Linked DNA regions of Homo sapiens. The protein of the gene in region 1 interacts with the protein of each later gene in a biochemical or structural test. Each region holds a gene or a part of one and is shown in the gene's direction. Other genes may lie near its edges. The genes, in order: GRB2, PLCG1, MAP4K1, EPS15, MAPK9, PTPRA and KHDRBS1.

What was found.
Region 2: the proteins of GRB2 (region 1) and PLCG1 form a complex in vitro, tested with the Homo sapiens proteins (2 studies listed by BioGRID).
Region 3: the proteins of GRB2 (region 1) and MAP4K1 form a complex in vitro, tested with the Homo sapiens proteins (3 studies listed by BioGRID).
Region 4: the proteins of GRB2 (region 1) and EPS15 form a complex in vitro, tested with the Homo sapiens proteins (2 studies listed by BioGRID, with this or other methods).
Region 5: the proteins of GRB2 (region 1) and MAPK9 form a complex in vitro, tested with the Homo sapiens proteins (2 studies listed by BioGRID).
Region 6: the proteins of GRB2 (region 1) and PTPRA form a complex in vitro, tested with the Homo sapiens proteins (3 studies listed by BioGRID and IntAct).
Region 7: the proteins of GRB2 (region 1) and KHDRBS1 form a complex in vitro, tested with the Homo sapiens proteins (3 studies listed by BioGRID, with this or other methods).

What each region holds. Positions count from the first base shown.
Region 1 is NC_000017.11:75,329,179-75,332,678, reverse strand, and holds part of GRB2 (growth factor receptor-bound protein 2), read left to right. Parts: intron 1-3,500. UniProt on the Homo sapiens protein: Non-enzymatic adapter protein that plays a pivotal role in precisely regulated signaling cascades from cell surface receptors to cellular responses, including signaling transduction and gene expression.
Region 2 is NC_000020.11:41,175,543-41,178,126, forward strand, and holds the end of PLCG1 (1-phosphatidylinositol 4,5-bisphosphate phosphodiesterase gamma-1), read left to right. Parts: 3' UTR 1-2,084; downstream 2,085-2,584. UniProt on the Homo sapiens protein: Mediates the production of the second messenger molecules diacylglycerol (DAG) and inositol 1,4,5-trisphosphate (IP3). Plays an important role in the regulation of intracellular signaling cascades.
Region 3 is NC_000019.10:38,600,954-38,604,453, reverse strand, and holds part of MAP4K1 (mitogen-activated protein kinase kinase kinase kinase 1), read left to right. Parts: intron 1-2,759; exon of another isoform or gene 2,760-2,928; coding exon 2,929-3,013; exon of another isoform or gene 3,014-3,041; intron 3,042-3,500. UniProt on the Homo sapiens protein: Serine/threonine-protein kinase, which plays a role in the response to environmental stress. Appears to act upstream of the JUN N-terminal pathway.
Region 4 is NC_000001.11:51,404,267-51,407,766, reverse strand, and holds part of EPS15 (epidermal growth factor receptor substrate 15), read left to right. Parts: intron 1-1,658; coding exon 1,659-1,862; intron 1,863-3,500. UniProt on the Homo sapiens protein: Involved in cell growth regulation. May be involved in the regulation of mitogenic signals and control of cell proliferation. Involved in the internalization of ligand-inducible receptors of the receptor tyrosine kinase (RTK) type, in particular EGFR.
Region 5 is NC_000005.10:180,243,584-180,247,083, reverse strand, and holds part of MAPK9 (mitogen-activated protein kinase 9), read left to right. Parts: exon of another isoform or gene 1-1,064; intron 1,065-3,500. UniProt on the Homo sapiens protein: Serine/threonine-protein kinase involved in various processes such as cell proliferation, differentiation, migration, transformation and programmed cell death.
Region 6 is NC_000020.11:3,033,981-3,037,480, forward strand, and holds part of PTPRA (receptor-type tyrosine-protein phosphatase alpha isoform 1 precursor), read left to right. Parts: intron 1-920; exon of another isoform or gene 921-1,106; intron 1,107-1,604; coding exon 1,605-1,730; intron 1,731-1,809; coding exon 1,810-1,961; intron 1,962-3,173; coding exon 3,174-3,309; intron 3,310-3,500. UniProt on the Homo sapiens protein: Tyrosine protein phosphatase which is involved in integrin-mediated focal adhesion formation.
Region 7 is NC_000001.11:32,016,868-32,020,367, forward strand, and holds part of KHDRBS1 (KH domain-containing, RNA-binding, signal transduction-associated protein 1), read left to right. Parts: intron 1-3,500. UniProt on the Homo sapiens protein: Recruited and tyrosine phosphorylated by several receptor systems, for example the T-cell, leptin and insulin receptors. Once phosphorylated, functions as an adapter protein in signal transduction cascades by binding to SH2 and SH3 domain-containing proteins.

The sequences.
Region 1 (3,500 bases):
TTGGAAGGGTTGGACCCACCTCCTTGTTTCAAACACTCTTTTTAAAATTGAGATCACTGGGATGGATGTCATACTTTTTATTCACGTTTCTAGGGAATTAACAAAGGATATTGATTGTGCATGTTAATAGTATATAATAATATATCATAGTCAATAATATTATATGTTTTAGATTGATAATAACTGTCAGTGATCTTCAAAAATAAAACGATAGTTGGTGCAGGTCCGTAATTCTTTTTCTGTTAAATATGTCTTAGAGCCAGATGTGTTTTATAATTCTGCATTTTTTTTGAGTTTTAGAAAAGGTACTTAGATGATTTTGTGTTTATATGTGCTAATGCTGTGGGACGGTATCTTAATATCTTTGTATCCCCAGAGTACGGTGCTTGGCATCTAATAGTTCTCAATAAATGTTTATCCCTCCATCTTAGTGTTCCTACTTACAAGAGAACAAAATATGCTGTCCTCCAGGCTGCTGGGAGCAGTGAATATTTTTAATTTTTTTTCAGAAGCTACCCTTGTCACGATTTTATTAATAACGCAACATAGTGGACCCCTGAGAGCCCCTGCAGACCACTGTCCTCCCGTTCTCACCCACCCCTCATTCACAGGCCCTGCTCCTAGCACAGAAGCAGTTGCTGGCTTGCCTTACAAGTGTGTCAGGGGAGCTGAGGCTTTCCACGCTCAGACTAGAATGCCCTTGGACATTGTCCACTTGCTTTCACAGCAGCTGGTGGCGGAGACTTTCAGGTGGCTTGTCGCATCTTGAGTGGGAGGGGCCTGTTGGATCACAGCACATCCTCCCCAGGTCCCATATAAGCCACATAATTTGTGTACTTCTGTTTCCTTCAGTCGTCCTCAAAAGAAACTGTAGGTCAAGGGTTGGCTAAACTTTTTCTGTGAAGAGCCAGATAGCAAGTAATTTCGACTTTGTGGGCTGCATACAATCCTGTCAAATATTCCTTGTAAAAATTTTCTTTTAACAATCGAGTAGAAATTTAAAAAACAGTCTTAGGTTGTGGGCAGATTTGGGCAGAAGGCCATTATTGTTTGCTGGCTCCTTCATTAGATCCAAACACAACATCGACTTCAGTTCCCTTTTGTTTTCATATTTTCAGATTGAAAGGGAATTCAACAGAACATCATACTACACTTCTTATATGACATGCCTGTGGCTCGAAATTCTTATTTTTCTTCAGTGTTTCGGGTGACACAGGCATTTAAATCTGACTGTTGAGGAAAGATAGGAAAGGCTACCTTCCTTGGAAAGTTGTAGTTACTGCCAGGCTGACTGGGACAGTCACTCCCTTGCCTTGACCTTTTGTCCCCACTATGAAGAACTTTAGAAGAATTGATGGAGAAGCACCCAGCACAGGCTCAGCTGTGTTGTTATTTGCAGACTCTGCCCAAAGGGTGGGCAGTGCTCAGCCACTCTGAGCTCTGAAAAGGCAACTAGCAACTTAAAAACCCTTATTTATTCAGGTCTACCATATTGCTAACAAAGACCATGCTTGTGCCTATGTAGGTGTTTGGCCTTGCAGACGTAGTTGCTGTTGTATAGGGCTGCTCTGTGGCTGGATGTTCATGAGTATAGGGTCAGGGTCAGTACCAGGCCTTCTCCTCCACATCCTACCACCTCCTGTTTTTTTGTTTGTTTGTTTGTTTGTTTGTGGGGGTGGGGAGCAGGGGTTATGGAGGAAGAGGGAAGCATAAAATGTAGCACCATGTCAGCTAATGCAGCATTCAAGTTAACAAATTAGACTACAAAATGATTGTTGGCATTAGTGCTGCAGCATGAGTTGTATATGCTTGAGGGGTGGATCCAAATATGTGCTTTTCACACTAAATGCATATGGATGGGAGCCTACGGGATGTAGTAAAGAATTATATTGGAAAATTAGCCTTCTCCCCTCACCCCCTTAGCTCTCGCCCTTGCTATTTCTGTTGTATAAGCCCACCTTTTTTTTTTTTGTTTTTTGTTTGTTGTTGTTCTTGTTGTTTTTATGAGACGGAATCCTGCTCTGTTGCCCAGGCTGGAGTGCAGTGGTGCTATCTCAGCTCACTGCAACCTCCGCCTGCTGGGTTCAAGCGATTCTTGTGCCTCAGCCTGCCGAGTAGCTGGGACTACAGGCGCGTGCCTCCACTCCCGTCGAATTGTTGTATTTTTAGTAGAGATGGGGTTTCACTGTGTTGGCCAAGCTGATCTCGAGCTCTTGGCCTAAAGTGCTGGGATTACAGGTGTAAGCCACCGCACCCTGCCAAAGCCCATCTTTTGTTTGTTTGTTTGTTTGTTTGTTTGAGATGGAGTCTCGCTCTGTCGCCAGGCTAGAGTGCTGTGGCGCGATCTCGGCTCACTGCAACCCCCAACTCCCTGGTTCAAGGGATTCTCCTGCCTCCACCTCCTGAGTAGCTGGGATTACAGGCATGTGCCACCATGCCTGGCTAATTTTTGTATTTTTAGTAGAGATGGGGTTTCACTGTGTTGGTCAGGATGGTCTCAATCTCCTGACCTCCTGATCCGCCCGCCTCGGCCTCCCAAAGTGCTGGGATTACAGGTGTGAGCCACCACACCCGGCCCAAAGCCCATCTTTTTAAAGACTTTCAAAACATTTGCCTGTTAGAGCTTGCAGCAAGCCAAGATCACGCCACTGCACTCCAGCCTATTCAACAAAGCAAGACTCTGTCTCAAAAAATAAAAAATAAAAAAAATTCACCCGTAAGCATGTAGTCACATGTACATATCATCATTTTAAAAAGTCAAATTTATAAATGATATAAAATGCTATAGAAATGTAGAATGGTGGTATTTCAGTGTTTTAGTAGTGACAGCTATTCACAGGGTCTTGCTCTGTCATCCAGGTTGGGCTCAAGTTATCCTCCCACCTTAGTCTCCTAAGTTGCTGCGTCTACAGCTGTGCACCACTATGCCTGGCTAATTTTTTATTTTTCGTAGAGACAGGGTCTCACTGTGTTGCCCGGGCTGGTCTTGATCTACTGGGCTTAAGCAATCCTCCCACCTTAGCCTCCCAAAGTGCTGGAATTAACAGGCGTGAGCAACTGCACCTGGTGCCAGATTTTTTATTTCTTGATCTGGGTGCTTATAACAGAGTTGTGGTTTTTTTGGTTTTTGGTTTTAATTCCAGTTAGAGTACTTTTTAAACATTATAATTTGTACTTCACTACAATTTATTTTTTTTAATTGAAAATAAAATTGCGTTAATTTTAAGCTGGGGGCAAGAAAACACAGCAGCCATGTCTATGTGACACCAGACAGAAAGGTCTGGAAACCTAAGTGTTAGAACCGCCAACACGTGCTGCCTCTGGGGAGTTTGAGGGAAGCATCTTACTTTTTATGTTTGCTTCATGTACATCTAGGCTATTTCAGTTTATATTCATTATTTTATACCTACAAATGGGAAAAAACCTCCCTAGTGGAGAGATCTTGGGGGCCTAGGAGGAAAGAGAGCCTTGCTGATTGAGAATCTTCACCCTCACCATTG
Region 2 (2,584 bases), on another chromosome or scaffold:
CACCTCTGAGGACAGAGGCCGGGGTCCAGGCCCGTGGGCGCAAAGGTGCCTCATAGCATAGCCAGCATTCAGCACACACAAACCTACTGCCCACATTTGGGCTCAGGGTTGGCCATTTGCTAGTTCTGCTGCCCTCTTAAGATCTGACTGCCAAATAAATCATCCTCATGTCCTTTTTCCTTTGACTTGTATGCTCTTTCGGGGGCTCAGGAAAGCCTGTTGCATGGGACATGCTCACTAGAAACAGTCGCCAGATGATTATTCTGCAGTAGAAGCAGGTAGGAAATTTCTGGAAATTTCTCAGGTTAAGCAGCAAGAGCTGTAACCCCTCCTCTGGGCTAACAGGAGTTGTGGGTCCACTCTCTCCTGCCCACCCTCTGAGGGTGTGTCTGAGCAGAGTACATCCTGCCTGGGTTCTTTGTGGCCAGCCAGTTTTGGTGGTGAGCTGGAAACAACCAGAGCCCCTTTCCAGTTCCACAGAAACCTCTCCTTTCAAAAATGTTGCATTCAGTTCGTTAACACTGCCAGGTGCCATTCTGATTGCCTCTAGGACTTGGCAGCTGAAATCTCTGGGCCCTTTCAACACAGTTGAAAGGCCCTTCTCTTCCTGAAGCTCTGTTTCCATAGTTGGCTGTGCTGGGATGGAACAAAAATGACGCCACACAAAAAATTTAAGATAGATCCGGTTCCGTGGATGACATGAACTGATGATAGCCAGTATCAAACAGCGATAGTGCTCAGGTTCTTGTGTGACTTTCTTTTACAGCTTCACAGTCCCAGTTCATAGAGAGGAGGGTGGCTTTTTCCCATACACAAGAAGGTGGTGGGTGGGAATTCACCTGGGCCCTCATGATCCATGTTTCCTCTCTAGGTTTTTATGGCCTGGAGAGAAAGGTTTCCTATCAGAGAAGGAAGAGGACTGTGTAGGCCCTTCTGTTAGGGCCCATCCACGTTGGTTAGGACGTCCTTGGCGTGTTTGTTAGTGTTGACCCTTTTAGTTTTCATCAATACGTATCTCTATTTGCTGAACAAGTGTCTTTCTGGAACACAACCTGGGGAACAGACAGCTCTGCCTTTCTTAAGGCAGCTTTGTAGACCTGAGGCTCACCTCTCTTGGGCTCTGTAAGACATTGCCTTTGCCTCACTGCAAATGTTTTGATTGTTCTTCCTAGTGGAAAACGTGCCAACTCTCAAGCAAATTTAAAGATCATTTTCACTTCAAGATTCCTCCAGACCTGACAAATGTTGATTGACCCAGAAGGCAGAGTGTTTGTTGGTGGGGAAGACCCTTACTTGGGGCCGAATGCTTTGGCATCAGGAGTTGTTTGCCCCATCCCATGCATGCAGGCCGTGTCCCTACAGTGCGACAGCTCAGGGTTATGACCTGTGGAGTCTCAACCCTAACAGCACATTAGCACCACTTGGGGAGCTTCTGAAAAATACTGGTACCCGGGGCCTTAGCATAGGTATTGTTCAAAACCTCTCAAGGTGATTTAAATGAGTAACAAGGGTTGAAAAACCCTGATTTTGGCAGCACAAACCAAAAGAGCAGGCAGGGCCGGGAGAGGGAAGTCAGTGGTACCAGAAGGTAGATGGGCTCCCTTGCAGGCTCCTTGTTCTCCTGCCATCACCAGTAGAACCTTCTGGCTGACAGACCAGGGACAAGTAGACTGGGTTCAAAGTGACAGACCTTTCACTTTCAACAGCTTTGGCTCAGCAGACATGTACACATACAAAGTAGAGCCTACAAGGTCAGGGGCATTCTGCCCCCGCCACAGGACTAAAGACTGCCCTGCGGGAAGATGGCAGGAGCAGTTTCTGACCTCAGTTGAGTATCTGTGGCCATGAGCAGAAAAGGCAGGGGTCTGCCTCCTGACCAAGCACATCTTGAACATCACCTGAGAGCTTGAACATCACTAAGGACCTAGACACTCACTTGTCTTTCAACTTGAGCCCATCACTCACCATGTGAGTTCTGTTGAGGGTGGGTAGAAAGCAAATAGGTTCAGGTTATCCCACCAGACTAACTCGGTGAATGAAAGGATCATGCCTTCTTCACATTTTAATTAAATGGATCAAGCACAGTCTCAGACTGCAACTCCTGTCTTCTCTGGGTACTTTAGTAATTCCCAGGGGACTTGTGCTTAGGGGTTAATCTAGGCATTCTGTTCCCTGCCTGGAGGAACCCCACAGCAACCCCCCTGGCTGGCCGCTCCTGCGAATTCCACCCATAGTATCCCAAGTGAGTCACTGCCTGAGTCTACCCACTACAGCATTCAGCTGATTGGCTTTGCCAGTTGCATGCCAGTTTGGTCTAGTTTCCAAGGACCTGGTTTTTGGGATTCAACACACACAGCTGCTTCCCCATGACATAAGCTGGACTCCTATTCTGGTGTCCAGAATCACTGCCTGGCTCCACTGTAGGTGATTTCATTTCAAAGGACCCTTTTTCCTTCTGTCCCAGGCCTTCAGGGCCACCCCAACAAAATTCAAATGCTTTGGGTCTTAGAAGCTGGGGCTTTAGTCTTTTTCCTCCAGAAAGCCCCTGGGTCCTTATGCATATTCCCTAACCCCCGACACCGCC
Region 3 (3,500 bases), on another chromosome or scaffold:
ACTTGGGAAGCTGAGGTGGGAGGATTGCTTGAGTCCAGAAGTTAGAGTCTTTTGACAAGATCCATCAAAACCTCCATGAGTCACTACCACATATGCAGTTGCCCAAAGAGCCAAGATCTCAAGAAATTTTACCTCTCATAAATGGAGATGTACAAAAAGAACATCTCTTTATTCAGGAAGTTTCAGTGTTTTTACGTACATGCATAATGCCTACACACGTAGTCAGTGTTGTGATAATGCACCTTTGTGGCATCAAATTTGCCAACAAATGCATAAAATGAATTAGAACTCTCTAAAGTCTTTTTTTTTTTTTTTTTTTTTTTTTGAGATAGTATCTCGCTCTGTCGCCCAGGCTGCTGGAGTGCAGTGGCGCGATCATGGCTCACTGCAGCCTTGACCTCGGAGACTCAAGCAATCCATGCACCTCACCCTCCCTAGTAGCGCTTGGCTAATTTTTTTTTTTTTTTTCTGAGATGGAGTCTCACTCTGTCGCCCAGGCTGGAGTGCAGTGGTGCTATCTTGGCTCACTGCAACCTCTGCCTCCCCAGTCTAAGTGATCCTCCTGCCTCAGCCTCCTAAGTAGCCATGACTACAGGCGCCCACCACCACGCCCAGCTAATTTTTGTATTTTTAGTAGAGACGGAGTTTTGCCATGTTGGCCAGGCTGGTCTCAAACTCCTGACCTCAAGTTATCTGCCAGCCTCGGCCTCCCAAAGTGCTGGCATTACAGGCGTGAGCCACCGCGCCCGGCCCAGCTTGGCTAATTTTTAAAAAAATGTTTTATAGAGGCAGGGTCTCACTATGTTGCCCAAGCTGGTCCTGAACTCCTGGGCTTAAGTGATCCTCCCACCTCGGCCTCCCAAACTGGTGGGATTACAGCCGTGCCTGGTTGGCTACCGGCTAAAAGTATGTATAATTTATACCTCCAGCACTGGAAATGATTCAAAGATGAAATGCATAGCATAATTAATCATACATATATACATATACATATATACACACACATATACATGTATATGTGTGTATATATGTATACGTGTATATATATGTATATGCATATATATGTACATGTGTATATATGTATATGTGTGTATATATGTATATGTGTATATATGTATATGCGTATATATGTACATGTGTATATATGTATACATGTATGTGTGTGTGTATATGTATGTGTATATATGTATATGCGTATATATGTACATGTGTATATATATGTGTATATGTATATGTGTATATATGTATGTGTATATATGTATATGCGTATATATGTACATGTGTATATATGTATACATGTATATGTGTGTATATATGTATATGCGTATATATGTACATGTGTATATATGTACATGTGTATATATGTACATGTGTATATATGTATATGTGTATATGTATATGCGTATATATGTACATGTGTATATATGTATACATGTATATGTGTGTATATATGTATATGTATATATGTATATGCGTATATATGTGCATGTGTATATGTGTGTATATATGTATGTGTATATATGTATATGCGTATATGTGTACATGTGTGTATATATGTACATGTGTATATAAGTATATATGTACATGTGTATATATGTATATGTGTATATATGTATATGCGTATATATGTACATGTGTATATATGTATATATGTATGTGTGTATATATGTATATGTGTATATATGTATATGCGTATATATGTACATGTGTATATATGTATACATGTATATGTGTGTATATATGTATACATGTATATGTGTGTATATATGTATATGCGTATATATGTACATGTGTATATATGTATATATGTATAGGTGTGTATATATATGTATATGTGTATATATATGTATATGCGTATATATGTACATGTGTATATATATGTATATATGTATATGTGTGTATATATATGTATATGTGTATATATGTATATGCGTATATATGTACACGTGTATATATGTATATATGTATATGTGTGTATATATGTATATGTGTGTATATATGTATGTGTGTGTGTATATATATGTGTGTGTGTGTGTGTGTGTCTATATATATATGTATATGTGTATATATATATATGCTGGCCAGGCACAGTGGCTCATGCCTGTAATCCCAGCACTTTGGGAGACCAAGGCAGACGCATCACCTGAGGTCAGGAGTTCGAGACCAGCCTGGCCAACATGGCGAAACCCTGTCTCTACTAAAATACAAAAATTAGCCAGGCGTGGTGTTGTGTGCCAGTAATCCCAGCTATTCAGGAGGCTGAGGCAGAAGAATTGCTTGAGCCCAGGAGGTGGAGGTTGCAGTGAGCTGAGATTGCATCACTGCACTCCAGCCTGGGCAACAGAGTGAGACTCCATCTCCAAAAACAAAACTGACAGCTGGGAGTGGTGCCTCACGCCTGTAATCTCAGCACTTTGGGAGGCTGAGGCAGGTGAATCACATGAGGCCAAGAGTTCAAGACCAGCCTGGGCAACATGGCAAAACTCCATCTCTACTAAAAATACAAAAATTAGCTGGGTGTGGTGGCACACGCCTTTGGTCCCAGCTACTCAGAAGGCTTAGGCATGAGAATCAGTTGAACTTGGGAAGCAGAGGTTGTAGTGAGCTGAGATCATGTCATTGCATTCCAGCCTGGGCAACCGAGTGAGACTCTGTCTTAAAAAAAACAAATGCTGATGATTTAGGATAGTGGAGGAAAAACTAAAAAAAGAAATATATAACAACAACAAAAAAAAACAAAAACAAACTGAAAAGAAAACTCAATGTATGAAAAAGTGTATTACAGGGATAGATTATGGGAAATTGCACCAAGGTAAGAGGCAGGATTTGAACCTTGGCACTCTCGCTCCAAAGTCGTAACCACTGCCCCTTCCTGTTCCCTGCTCTCTTTGCCGGATCTGCTGCCTGGCCCCGCGGCGACCTGCCCAGGGATGTGCCCTTCTCGTAAAGTTGTTCAATGGCTGCCCCCTCCGGATCCACAGCACGGCCGCCTGGACACATCCCTCCACCAAGGGTGGGCATTCTGGAGGGTCAAGGAGATCCTGTAGGGAATGGGAGAGCAAAAGTAGGGGTGGGGAGAAGCCTAAGGAAGGCACAAAGGCAGGGACGGGGAGGAGCTTAATGGAGTTGGGGTGTGGCCAGGCTGAAACAGGGGCGGAGCTTGTCCTTACACTCAGGATTTGGTGATCAAAGATGCATAGAGGGCAGCCAGGTGTGGTGGCTCACACCTGTAATCCCAGCACTTTGGGAGGCTGAGGCGGGTGAATCATTTGAGGTCAGGAGTTCAAGACCAGCCTGGCCAACATGGTGAAACCCCGTCTCTACTAAAAATACAAAAGAAGCTAGGTAGGCCGGGCATGGTGGCTCACGCCTGTAATCCCAGCACTTTGGGAGGCGGAGGCGGGCGGATCATTTGAGGTCAGGAGTTTGAGACCAGCCTGGCCAACGTGGTAAAACCTCGTCTCTACTAAAAACACAAAAATTAGCCAGGCGTGGTAGCA
Region 4 (3,500 bases), on another chromosome or scaffold:
ACCTGTAAGACATTTTAGCATGGTGCTTGGTACATAAATGCTCCATAAGTGTTGCCTGTTTTATAAACAATAACCTAGTTTCTTCTGTTTTGTGATTCTAATTTTGAATTCACATTTGCTAATTTGGAAACTTTTTTCTTAAGGAAATTGTTCCTTCTGTAGATAAATTTGCAGTGTTATAGTTGGTCTTATGTATAGATCCTTTGCTTTATTTCCAGGTTTCCCTACATGAAGACTAATGTTTTAATGAATGATAAGATAGTTAGGGCTCGGCATGGTGGTGGCCCATGCCTGTAATCCCAGCACTTTGGGAGGCTGAGGCAATGGATCACTTGAGGCCGGGAGTTCGAGACCAGCCCTGCCAACATGGCCAAACTCTGTTTCTACTAAAAGGTACAAAAATTAACTGGGCATGGTGGTACCTGCCTGTAATTCCAGCTACTTGGGAGGCTGAGGCACGAGAATCACTTGAGCCTGGGAGGCAGAGGTTGCAGTGAGCTCAGATCACACCACTGCACTCCACCCTGGGCAACAGAGTGAGAATCTGTCTCAAAAAATAAAAACTAAAAAAAAAAGGATAGAAACACAGAGATCATGGAGTTGATTTCTTTCATTATGAATTTGAACAAACTAAAGCCAAGGAAGTTCAAGTAACTTTCTCAAGGTTACATATCCTTGAAAAGAGCTACATCTAAAATCCAGTTCTTCTAAAACCCAGTCCAGTGTGCTCAGTTATTACATATAATGAAGTCCTTCACTTTTGCGCTTCCTTACCCCCTGTTATCTGGCAGCTGAGTACCTACCTACTCATTCGTCATGCAAGATATACCTTAAATTCTTATTTCTTTATGGTATTTTCTGCATCCTGCTTTTGTTGGACTTTGTATTTATGTTACAGCAATAATAAGATTTTTCCCTGCATATTTGCTTATATGTCTGTCTCCCCTAGCAGAGTCATGGTTTTGGTCTGGGAACTTACACATTTTTAAAAATCCGTATCATTTAGCACAGTTCTTGTCCCAGTGTAGGTACTCAATAAACAGGTAACCTGAAAGAGTTGTTGTAGTGAGAATGCTACCAGATGAATGGGTATTCTTTAAAGTATTTTCTTTTTTTGAATCTCTTTAAAAAAAAAATCCATGTATACTAAAATTTCAAGAGAGAAATACTTATTGTCAGAAATTACTGAATCTTTTCTCTAAGTCACGTAGCATTCCCAGAGGATTCTTCTTAAAGGAAGCAAATGTATCCTAGACCAAGTCTACAGGTATAGCCATTTTTATTTTATTTATTTTTTTGAGACAGGGTCTCATTCTGTCACTCGAGTGCAGTGGTGTGATCATGGCTCACTGCAGCCTTGACCTCTGGGCTCAAGTGATCCTCCCATCTCAGCCTTCTGAGTAGCTGGGACTACAGGTGCACTCCATCATGCCCAGCTAATTTTTATATTTCTTGTAGAAATGAGGTTTCACCGTGTTGCTCAGGCTGGTCTTGAACTCCTGGGCTGAAGCAGTCCTCCTGCCTCAGTTTCCCAAAGTGTTGAGATTATAGGCATGAGCTACCACACCTAGCCCGTCAGGAAGTGGAGGAGGGCGTTTTTATGTTACATGTCTTTCTAGTAATAAATTCTGTTCTATATTTCTTCTTTGTGTTGGCAGATGCAAATGAAACTGATGGAAATGAAAGATTTGGAAAATCATAATAGTCAGTTAAATTGGTGCAGTAGCCCACACAGCATTCTTGTAAACGGAGCTACAGATTATTGCAGCCTCAGCACCAGCAGCAGTGAAACAGCCAACCTTAATGAACATGTTGAAGGCCAGAGCAACCTAGAGTCTGAGCCCATACACCAGGAATCTCCAGTGAGTCTAATACTTTCATAACCTTCATAATCAACCTCCTTGTGCAGATCCAAGTTTCACTGACATTATATCTAATATAAATACATGGCCTTGCCTCATCTGAGGACAATTGAGATTTCCTTTTTAGAAGCAGAGAGTCCTAATCCAAACAATTGTACGTTTTAACTAGTATAAAAAGATAACTTTAGCTAATTTTTTTTTTTTTGGAGATGGAGTTTTGCTCTTGTTGCCCAGGCTGGAGTGCAGTGGTGCGATCTTGGCTTACTGCAACCTCCGTCTCCTGGGTTCAAGCAATTCTCCTGCCTCAGCCTCCTGAGTAGCTGGGATTACAGTCACGTGCCACCACACTCAGCTAATTTTTTGTATTTTTAGTAGAGATGGGGTTTCATCATGTTGGCCAGGCTGGTTTCGAACTCCTGACCTCAAGTGACCCATCTGCCTCGGCCTCCCAAAGTGCAGGGATTACAGGCGTGAGCCACCACGCCCAGCCAGCTAATTTATTTTTTGTAGAGCCTGTTTTTAAAATGGTGGTTCTATAGAGTAAAACTTTTTTTTTAAGTACCCTCACCAAAAGCTAAAATTATTTTTATTACGTAGTGTTAAGGACATTCATTTACCAATTATTTGACGAGTACCAACTATGTGCAAGAGTGCTGTATTACATAATATAAGAGCTACAGAGACAAGAGACCTCAGTCTTTCCTTCAAGCAGCCTACAGTGTAGTAGTGTAACACTGTGTTAAAGGGCTGTGCTAAAGGAAGCGCAGAATTTTCAGTTAGGACAGTTTGGAGGGGGTTCATAAAGATTTTGTTGGGGAAAGCTTTGCGAGTTTAGACAAGTGAGAAGTGGTTAAGCAAAGAAGAGGAGGATACATTCCTGCCAGAGAAAACAGTATTAGTATAGGTACAAGGTGGAAGAATACATGCAGCACAGAATCTTGAGAAGTTCTGAAGGATATCTTGTGATGGTGGAGAGGGTATTGGTAAGAGATGAGGCGCTTCTAGTAGGCATCTGCATTACCTCTGGTGATTGTCAAAGTATAAATGTGTATCCCTTTCCCCAAACTTGCTGAACTAGTTTCTGGGATAGAGCCAGATATGTATATTTTAAAAACACACTCTATGGGTGATTGTCATGTGCACCTGGATAAAAATGACCAATTTTAGGTCAGAAAGTGCCAGAAGATGAGAAATTTAGATTCATCTTAAAGCATTGGGGGATTTATCCTACTGCAATGAACAGCCATTGAAGAATTTTAAGCAAGAAGTGACGTGATTAACTTTTAGAAATGTGGAAAACGGATTAGAGAGTGAGACTGTACCCGTAGAAGGGATAATGAGAAGAATAGAAGTTTGAGAGGTATTAAAAGTGAAAAGTTAACAGACTCGATTTTATTTACACAGTGCAGTCATGTATGCATTATAAAATATTCTTTCAAGCGCAAAAGGCAGATTACTAGGTTATCCTGCAAATAGATAAGGGTGGTATAAAGTAGCTATTGCCCTGCTACTTTTTTTTTTTTTTTTGAGACGGAGTCTCGCTCTGTTGCCCAGGCTGGAGTGCAGTGGCGCAATCTCAGCTCACTGCAACCTCTGCCTCCTGGGTTCAAGCTATTCTCCTGCCTCAGCCTCCCGGGT
Region 5 (3,500 bases), on another chromosome or scaffold:
TAATTTAACTAGGAAAGATGCTATCTAAATTTAATAGGCTAGTGTGCTTGTGTGCTTTAATTAAGTACTATTTTGTTAGTTACTGGTATGCATTGAAATATTTTCCCCCAAAGTAAGAACTGAAGCACATTACAAAGGACCTAAGTGAAAGAGATTAAAATGAAAATTTTGTGAGGAACAATATGTTAAACTTTCTTGTTTGTTACTGTGCTGACATTTTGTAGAATTTTTTTTAAAAATCTGTCTAGTGGGTTATTTTGTGACACACTGGGGAAGTCAAAATAAATGTAAAATGAAAGAGATAAACTCATACTGTAGTCAGCAAGTCATGTTAGAGATACAGCAGAAAGGAGAATAACTACTCTAATTGTTACAATAGCCTTCTTTCCTCATTTGCCATTCTTCCATCCTCAGTATTTTTTACCCTAACATGGTTCTTCACATCTTCCCTTTTTCATTTGTGTTTTAACCACTTAGTTTTTCATTAGTCTTTGACTTTGTTTTCGTTATGAAAGTTTAAATTGGTCTCCATCCTTGGGCAGATTGATGGTTGCTTTTAAGGAAATCAAGCTCCATAGTCAGTGTTTTGTATGTATCTTAGGAAAATAATTTCAGATTTTAATAATTTTATCAAAGTGGTCTCCTTATAAATTCTTCACAGTGCAAACTTAAAGTGAAAATATTTTTATTTCTCTCATTTTATTTACCTTTCTTTACATTTTCTATATCATAGATTATATAATATGTCAAGTTATTTTATTTGTTCTACTAAATTTTCTAGCAGTTTCCATAGCCTCATCTCAGATTCACTTGTTGCAACCTATAAATAAGGACGTCTTTATTTTGCAAGTAAACTTAATTAAAAAGGGAAAAGTTGAAAAATTAAAAGACTAATAATTTAGAAATATCTACTTAATGTTCAGTTTGTCTCAATTCTTACTCATTTTGTGCCATTCCTTGTTTTATTACAAAATGTTTTCTTCAAAAAGTACAAAAATGAAAAATGTGAGTACTTTTTGGTGCATTTTAGTAAGTAAAATTAAAATTCCTGCTATACATATGAACATTAATGTCAGTAATTAATAGTGTTATATATAAGGTTACCTAATGTTATTCCCAAAAGCCACACAGAGTTTAACATCATTTTCTAAAGAAAATTTTGCCAACTCTTTCAAATATTAGATTGAAATTTGGGAGATAGAAAAAAGTTGCAGAAATCAGACTGAGGGTCTCAGAGATTTGCTTTAATTTGCGACCCAGGGTAGAAAAGGAACTCCTGTCCCTGCGGTGGTCTATGAGAAAGAGAAAGCTTTAGCCCGGCCACCTCGGGCCCCAGCTCAGACTCCTCCCCTTGGCAGCCATGCATCCTTGAGAAATTTAGGGCCTCTCTGAGCCTTGGTTTCCCCTTCTGTAAAATAGACCTGTGGTCTGCCTGCAGCTTCACGAGAGTTAGACAACAGGGTCCACTGGGCTTGTCGGAATTATTGTTCCCCTTCCCCCGTCCCTCTCATCTGTCCCCCATCCCTCCCACCTGTAGGATGCTGGGGTGGAGTCCTCTCGGGGAATCTGTGGGTCTCCTCTCACAACTGGTTTAATTTCTAGTCCTTTATCATTAACCCAGCAGATATTTCTCTCACCTGCCCATTTCTGGGTGCCTAGTCTGACTGAGATGCAAAGAGGCTCCTCCCAGCTGCTGAATTGAGGGTGGATCGTCAAGGGCAGGGCAGAGCAGGAGAACAGAGCAGAGGCTGCCATCATCCAGAGGAGAGGTGGAGGCCCCCAGCAGGCGGGTAGGGGTGTGGCCGGGGAGATGGGCTTGTACTCTGCTTTGAAGCTGGACCCTTCAAGGAGCCTTGCTAGGGTTTGGAGATGTCTGTTAGACAGTGGAATTTAGGGGCAAGGTCTGGGATAGAGAGATCAAAGTGGGTGTCATCCGTCTGTCGGTAGCCTTGAAGCCTAGGACTGGTAGCGAGCACTTGCAGGGGAGGAAGAGACCAGGACCCGGGACTTAGCCCCCTTGAGGTGGAGGGACAAAGGGAATAGGGAAGGAAATGGAGAAGGCACTCACGTGACCCCTCCTCCTAGAGTGTGGTGACTGAGGGAGGCTCATTCACATGAGGAGATGAGGACGGGGGATTGGCCCCTGGGCCTTGTGATGGCTGCTGGCAGCCATGATGGGCACAGCATTTATGGAGTGGAGGGAAGAAAGCCTGATGGGAGTATGTTTGAGAGAAAATGAGAGGCTGGGAATTAGAGACACAAGTGTAGACAGCTCTTTTTTCTTTCCTTTTTTTTTTTTTTTTTTCCTTTGAGACAGAGTCTCACTCCATTGCCCAGGCTGGAGGGCAGCGATGCGATCTCAGCTCACTGCAACCTCTACCTCCTGGGTTCAAGCGATTCTTCTGCCTCAGCCTCCCGAGTAGCTGGGATTACAGGCGCCCGCCACCACGCCTGGCTAATTTTTGTATTTTTAGTAGGGCCAGGGTTTCACCGTCTTGGCCAGGCTGGTCTTGAACACCTGACCTTGTGATCCACCTGCCTCGGCCTCCCAAAGTGCCGGGATTACAGGTGTGAGCCACTGAGCCCGACCGACAGCTCTTTATGGAAGTTTTTGCTGCAAATAGGAATAAGAAATAAAGCGATAGGTAGGGCCAAAGGAAAGCAGCTACTGTGTTAACATAGGAGAAAACACCATCATTTACCAACGTGGTGGAATGTATTGGTAGAGTGCAAAATGTCGATGATGTTGGAGAAGGAAGAGTTGAGGGAGCTTGTCCTTGAGTCAGGGGGGTTAGGGTCTAGAGCTGAGCAGGCTTAGTGTAGCCGGGAGCCCAGATGGTTGCTGTGTGGCAAATGGCACACAGATGCTGGGTGGGTGCATCCTGGGAAGTCTGTGGGAGTGAGCAGGCAGAAGAGGTATCAAAAGTATAAGGTGGGCTGGGCGCAGTGGCTCACACCTATAATCCCAGCACTTTGGGAGGCCGAGGCAGGCAGATCACTTGAGGCCAGGAATTCCAGACCAGCCTGGCCAACATGGCGAAACCCCATCTCTACTAAAAATAACAAAAATTAGCCGACCGTTATGGCAGGTGCCTGTAGTCCCAGCTACTTGGGAGGCTGAGGCACGAGAATTACTTGAGCCCGGGAGGTGGAGGTTGCAGTCAGCCGAGATCATGCCACTGCACTCCAGCCTGGGCGACAGAGCGAGACTCTGTCTTTATTTATATATGTATATATGGCAGAAGGAAAAGGTGTGAGACAGTTTTCACATTTTGGCTAAATAGGTAAATAAAATGTGGGCATAATTCTGATTTGACAATATGTATGAACCAGGAGTAGGAAGGAGAATTTGCTAGTGAATTGAATGCCAGAAACACATTTCCTGAGCGGGTCTTTTGGAAGTATAACATTTTGGAAGAACTGAGTTCATGTACCAGTTCCCTAGGTTATTTCATGGTGATGTAAGTTCATTTTTCTAAGACATGCCTCAGTGAGCACTT
Region 6 (3,500 bases), on another chromosome or scaffold:
ACTTTTGATCAGATGTGGTGGCTCACGCCTGTGTAATCCTACCACTTTGGGAGGCTGAGGCAGGTGGATCACCTGAGGTCAAGAGTTTGAGACCAGCCTGGCCGACATGGTGAAACCCTGTCTCTACTAAAAATACAAAAATTAGCTAGGCATGGTGGCGCACACTTGTAGTCCCAGCTACTTGGGAGTCTGGGGTGGGAGAATCACTTGAAACTGGGAGGCGGAGGCTGCAGTAAGTCAAGATCATGCCACTGCACTCCAGCCTGGGCGACAGAGCAAGACTCTCTCAAAAAAGAAAAAAAAAATGAGACTCTTAGTGTTGATACCTAGTCCCTAGACTTGATATGTATTTCTGTCTGAGAGATCATGCTCAATTCCTCCAGCACACACACACTGTGGCTCACACCCATGGGGACCTTATGGTTCTGATGGTTTTAAAGGCCCAGTCTTCATCCCAGCTGAGACACTGTGTAAAGCAGTGTTGAGAAGGCACTGTGGTAGCAAAATCCATTCCACCCACCAGTGCCATAAAAACTAATATAATGCCTGATCGAGGTGAGCCTTAATGAGAATTTTTTTTTTTTTTTGGCTGTTCTGGTTGAAGAGAGGCCCAGGGCACCGATCCCTGAGGCATCCCCAGGGCTTCTAGAGAACATGGGTGGAAAAGCACTAGTCCAGGGCATGTTCTTGATTCAACACTTTAATAATCATGATTTTATTTGGACTGTGAGACTATTCACAATTTCTTTTTCTACTTAATTTTTTTCCAAATCTTTCAATGACATTATATGTATGGTTGAGAATTTTTCAATTGCCAGTAGTGAAGAATCTCAGATCTTACCCCCAAATTCTCTAAAGAAATGGGCAGCATAACTGTGTGATGTTATATTTATGTATTTATGCCTTGGCTTGTTCTGCAGACATTGAACAAATTCATTTACCAGATACTGAGAGCCTACCATGTGCCAGGCATTGTGCAAGGTGTGGGGAATACAGAGATGAAAAGAGACGCAGCCACTCCCACAAGGAGCTGTAGAGGGAAGTGAGCCAGGTGCAAGCAAAGACAGACAGTAGACCACCTCCTGCTCACTAGCAAGGACAGAAAGGCGAGTGCTAGCAACTTGAAGGTACCTTGCAGATCAAAGAGATAAAGGTAAAAGGGAGAAAGGATACTGTGGCCTGGGCGGTGGTGAAGCCCATGGCTGTGTGGGAATGTGAATTGGTTCTGATTTTCTGAATTAGCAGTCTGGCGGATGTAAGCAGCATTAAATATGAAAACACCCCATGGGAGAAAAAGAAAGGAATTGGAACAAAGATTTTCACTCGTCCTCCTCTCCCTGCAGCCACCAAGTATTGGATACCCTGTGAGCCTGTAGTCAGAGTCCTTTACAGACCCCGGCAGTGTTTTAGATGGTCTCTGGTGAGGATCGGAGGTTAATTGGAATGATGTGATATAATGATCCTGCAAGTTTTCAATACCTTGGGGACGAAGCGTATCAGCGTAAGAGGTGGCTGTACTGAGAGGGGTCAGGCTGCTCGTGGGCAGTGCTGCTTCTACACATGTGGTACTCTGAGCTCCTCACCTCTCCAACCTGTCTCTCCAGGAGAAGTGTGCCCAGTACTGGCCATCTGATGGACTGGTGTCCTATGGAGATATTACAGTGGAACTGAAGAAGGAGGAGGAATGTGAGAGCTACACCGTCCGAGACCTCCTGGTCACCAACACCAGGGTAAGATGGGTCGTGGGTGGACTCTGCCCACAGGAAAAGCAGGGTTACCCCTGCCTCCCTGATCCCCTTTTTTCCAAAGGAGAATAAGAGCCGGCAGATCCGGCAGTTCCACTTCCATGGCTGGCCTGAAGTGGGCATCCCCAGTGACGGAAAGGGCATGATCAGCATCATCGCCGCCGTGCAGAAGCAGCAGCAGCAGTCAGGGAACCACCCCATCACCGTGCACTGCAGGTATGGCTCACCCTTGCCCTCAGCGGGAGAGAGAAAGCGAGGAGGGGCAGATAGGGGAAGCTGATGACCATGGGTCAGACTGAAGAAAGCCATACAAGAGCAAGATATTGGTGAGCACATAGTAGTTGAGATTGATGCCAAGACAGGATTGGATGCTAAGAGAGAGGACCTTGGAGCTTGAACTTGGCACAATAAGTGCTAGGGGACTAATGTTCAGATAGTGGGCAGGAGAGCAGCAGGGGAGACTGGCAGTGGAGACCCCGGTTGTGCTATGAACAGAGGGTGAAAGAGAAGAGGAGTCAAGGGTGTCTCCCAGGTTTGAGCCTGGGTTGGTGTGACCAGCAGAAGAGAGACAGTAAAGAGGTTTGTTTGAGGGGAAAAGTTGAATTTTGTATGGGGCATGTTGCTGGAGGTTACGTTTTAGAAAAAATGCACTCCTTTACTTAGAATCCTAACAACAGCTTACAAGGCCCAATATGTTCTGAGGGGTCCCTGGCCAGGGCCGGGAGAGGATGGTGTGCACCATGGGCTGGCTCTGAGCACACTCCTGCCATGGGCCTGAGATGCCAGTTTCCCAGGCAGCCACAGGGCTTTGCCCAAGCCTTCCCTGAGTACCCTGCCAGAACTCCCACTCCTCTTTTCTCTTTCCTTACCACACATCTTCTTGTCTGGGGACATTGCTAAACCCCACAGTCCCTGCCTCAGAGTAGGCACTCAGTGTCTGGTGAGTGAATCAGCTGATGACATTGAATAGGGGGATATTGTCAAGGTCAGAGTCTGGATTCCGTGGATTTGGGAAGAAAGTGAAAGACATGGAAAGGAATCAGCAGATACACACCAGTGTAGGGAGTGGGGTTTGTCAGAAAAAGGGAAAGACAGGACTAGAGCTAGTTCTAACTGAGCGAACAGCAGGTCAGAACAACCTAGGCCAGCATGTGCAGGTGGACAGCAATGGCTCTGTGCTGGTGGGGTGTGAGTGAAGGTCGTCCCCCACGGTCCAACAGGTGAGTCCCTCCACAGCACATGGGGCCATGCAGGAAGGGCACAGGGTACACTGCCTCCCGACCCAGAACCCCTCCAGGCTGGTGGGTCCACAGGGCAAAGGCGAGCACCAGCTGCCTGCCCCCACCTCTTCTGCCACTCACCACTGTCACTCACCCCCTTGCACAGAGGGCCATCACAGGTGTGGTAAATGTGTCTGCTCTGTTGCAGCGCCGGGGCAGGAAGGACGGGGACCTTCTGTGCCCTGAGCACCGTCCTGGAGCGTGTGAAAGCAGAGGGGATTTTGGATGTCTTCCAGACTGTCAAGAGCCTGCGGCTACAGAGGCCACACATGGTCCAGACACTGGTATGCTGCCCACATATTTGTCCCTGCCACCACACCACCTGCAGCCCTTCTCTCAGGGAGGAGGCTCTTCAGAGGGGCCCACCCAGTAGTCAGAAGACTGTCTAAACACAGACCTGCCCTTGCCCTCCCAAGGTGCCCCAAATACACAGGAAACATTGGGAGGCAGGATGGCAGCAATGGGAGCATAGCCC
Region 7 (3,500 bases), on another chromosome or scaffold:
TCTTCTATGCCTTGAAGAGTGCTGCACAGAGTGGCCTCTTATTAAATATTTCACGAAATAATACATATTCACCTTCATTGAAGATGGGACTGATGAAAAAATGATGACAGCCGTGCACGGTGGCTCACACCTATAATCCCAACACTTTGGGAGGCTGAGGCAGACGGATCACTTGAGGTCAGGAGTTCAAGACCAGCCTGGCCAACATGGTGAAACCCCGTCTCTACCAAAAATACAAAAATTAGCCGGGCGTGGTGGCACATGCCTGTAATCCCAGCTACTTGGGAGGCTGAGGCAGGAGAATCACTTGAAACCGGGAGTTGGAGGTTACAGTGAGCCCAGATTGCACCATTGCACTCCAGCCTGGGTGAAGAAGCAAGACTCCGTCTCAAAAAAAAAAAAAAGACAAAATTTTGAGGGATGTAGATTTTGAATGTAGACTTCTATGTTAGCCAGATTGATATTCAGCTGTGATGACTGTCGAATGTATCTGCAGACATAAGGATTCAATCATCCATCTTTGTTTTCTGGAAGAGAAATAATTTACCTTATTGTGTTAATATATTTATATACTAAGTAAAATGCTGTTGTATATATTCGAATGTGTCTGCAGACATAAGGATTCAATCATCTATCTTTGTTTTCTGGAAGAGAAATAATTTACCTTATTGTGTTAATATATTTATATAGTAAGTAAAATGCTGTTGTATAGATACCAGTGTTCTTTTTCTACTTTTTTTTTTTTTTTTTTTTTTTTGAGACGGAGTTGCACTTTTGTTGCCCAGGCTGGAGTGCAATGGCGCGATCTTGGCTCACCGCAACCTCCACCTCCCAGGTTCAAGCAATTCTCCTGCCTCAGCTTCCCTGGTAGCTGGGATTATAGGCATGTGCCACCACGCCCGGCTAATTTCGTATTTTTAGTAGAGACGGGGTTTCTCCATGTTGGTCAGGCTGGTCTCAAACTCCCGACCTCAGGTGATCCGCCTGCCTCGGCCTCCCAAAGTGCTGGAATTACAGGCATGAGCCACTGCGCCCGGCCTATTTTTCTACTTTCTACAATTAGGGAAATACAAGTTAGTATAAGTGACTCAAGAATAAACATTTTGAATAGATTAGCAATCTGCAAAAGATCTTGGAGAGATACTCAAAAATCCATCCTTCAAAAGCATACAGTGGAAAACATTTACAAAGTCTGTTGAAACTTCAAAATAGTTAATTCCTTTATTTACAGTATTCTCTAGAAATACATTAAGACCTTCCCAGTTCATTCTACAGGGCTAGCAAAACCTGCTTTTAAAACTGGAAAATAAGGGCCGGGCCTGGTGGCTCATGCCTGTAATCCCAGCACTTTGGGAGGCCGAGGCAGGCAAAGCACGAGGTCAGGAGTTCGAGACCAGCCTGGCCAACGTGGTGAAACCCTGTCTCTACTAAAAATACAAAAAATTACCCCTGGTGTGGTGGTGGGCGCCTGTAATCCCAGCTACTCAGGAGGCTAAGGCAGGAAGATCATTTGAACTCAGGAGACGGAGGTTGCAGTGAGCCAAGATCGCACCACTGCACTCCAGCCTGGGCGACAGTGTGAGACTCCGTCTCAAAAAAGCAAACAGGCCGGGTGCGGTGGCTCACGCCTGTAATCCCAGCACGTTGGGAGGCCGAGGCGGGTGGATCACGAGGTCAGGAGATCAAGACCATCCTGGCTAACACAGTGAAACCCCGTCTCTACTAAAAGATACAAAAAAATTAGCCGGGCGCAGTGGCGGGCGCCTGTAGTCCCAGCTACTGGGGAGGCTGAGGCAGGAGAATGGCGTGAACCCGGGAGGCGGAGTTTGCAGTGAGCCGAGATCGCGCCACTGCACTCCAGCCTGGGGGACAGAGTGAGACTCCGTCTCAAAAACAAACAAACAAACAAACTGGAGAGTAAGGCCAGGTGCGGTGGCCCATGCCTGTAATCCCAGCACTTTGGGATGCCAAGGCAGTCGGATCACTTGAGGTCAGAAGTTCGAGACCAGTCTGACCAACATGGTGAAACCCTGTCTCTACTAAAAATACAAAAGATAGCTGGGTGTGGTGGCACGTGCCTGTAATCCTAGCTACTCGGGAGCCTGTAATTCCAGCTACTCAGGAGGCTGAGGCAGGAGAATCACTTGAACCCAGGAGGTGGAGTTTGCAGTGAGCCGAGATTGCGCCGCCACTGCACTCCAGCCTGGGCGACAGAGCGAGACTCTGTCTTAAAAAACAAACAAACAAACAAAAAACCAGCAACACCTTTTCTAGGAATATGCTCAAAGAAACTTATACATGAGCACTTGATTCATGAAATGGTGTACCTTGTTCACAAAACATTGCAACTTGTTTCACCATTCATTGGATAATGTGATAGATTTACAACAGAAAATATTTGGCTGGGCACAGTTTCTCACGCCTGTAATCCCAGCATTTTGGGAGGCAGAGGCGGGTGGATTAACTGAGGTCAGGAGTTTAAGACCAGCCTGACCAACATGGTGAAACCCTGTCTTTACTAAAAATACAAAAATTAGTTGGGCGTGGTGGCAGGTGCCTGTAATGCCGGCTACTTGGAAGGCTGAGGCAGGAGAATTGCTGAAACCCGGGAGACAGAGGTTGCAGTGAGCTGAGATCTAGCCAACAAGTGAAACTCAATCTCAAAAAAAAACAAAAAGAAAGAAAGAAAGAAAAAGAAAATATTTGTACAGCAGTGAAAATGGATGAACTATAGCTGCAGGCAACAACATGGAGAAATCTCCAAAATCTAATGTTATATGAAGAAAGTACATCCCATAAGACTACATACAGTATAATACTATTTCTATAAAACAAAGCCTAGTAAGATAAAGCAGAATATCATTAAGTATACATTTATCTGTGATATTGCAGGTTTTGTTTTTTTGTTTGTTTGTTTGTTTTGAGATTGAGTCTCGCTCTGTCGCTCACGCTGGAGTGCAGTGGCGCGATCTTGGCTGACTGCTACCTCTACCTTTCGGTTTCAAGCAGTTCTCCTGCCTCAGCCTCCCGAGTAGGTGGGATTACAGGCGCCCACCACCATGCCCGGCTGATTTTTGTATTTTTAGTAGAGATGGGGTTTCACCGTGTTGGCCAGGCTGGTCTCAAATTCCTGACCATGATCCTCCCTCTTCAGCCTCCCAAAGTGCCTGTGTTACAGGTGTGAGCCACCATGCCCAGCCCAATGCAGGTTTTGTTTGTTTGTTTGTTTTTTGTTTTTTACAAAACTAAATGTGCTTATTGGCTGGGCATGGTGGCTCATGCCTGTAATCCCAGGACTTTGGGAGGCCAAGGTGAGAGGATTGCTTGAGCCCTAGTGAGAGCTTGTCTCTACAGAAAATTTAAAAATTAGCTGAGAATGGCGGCACACACCCATAGTCCCAACTACCCGGGAGCCTGAAGCAGAAGGATCACTTGAACCCAGGAGATTGGTCTTAGGCTGAGGTGGAAGAATCGCTTGAACCCAGGAGGTCGAGGCTGCC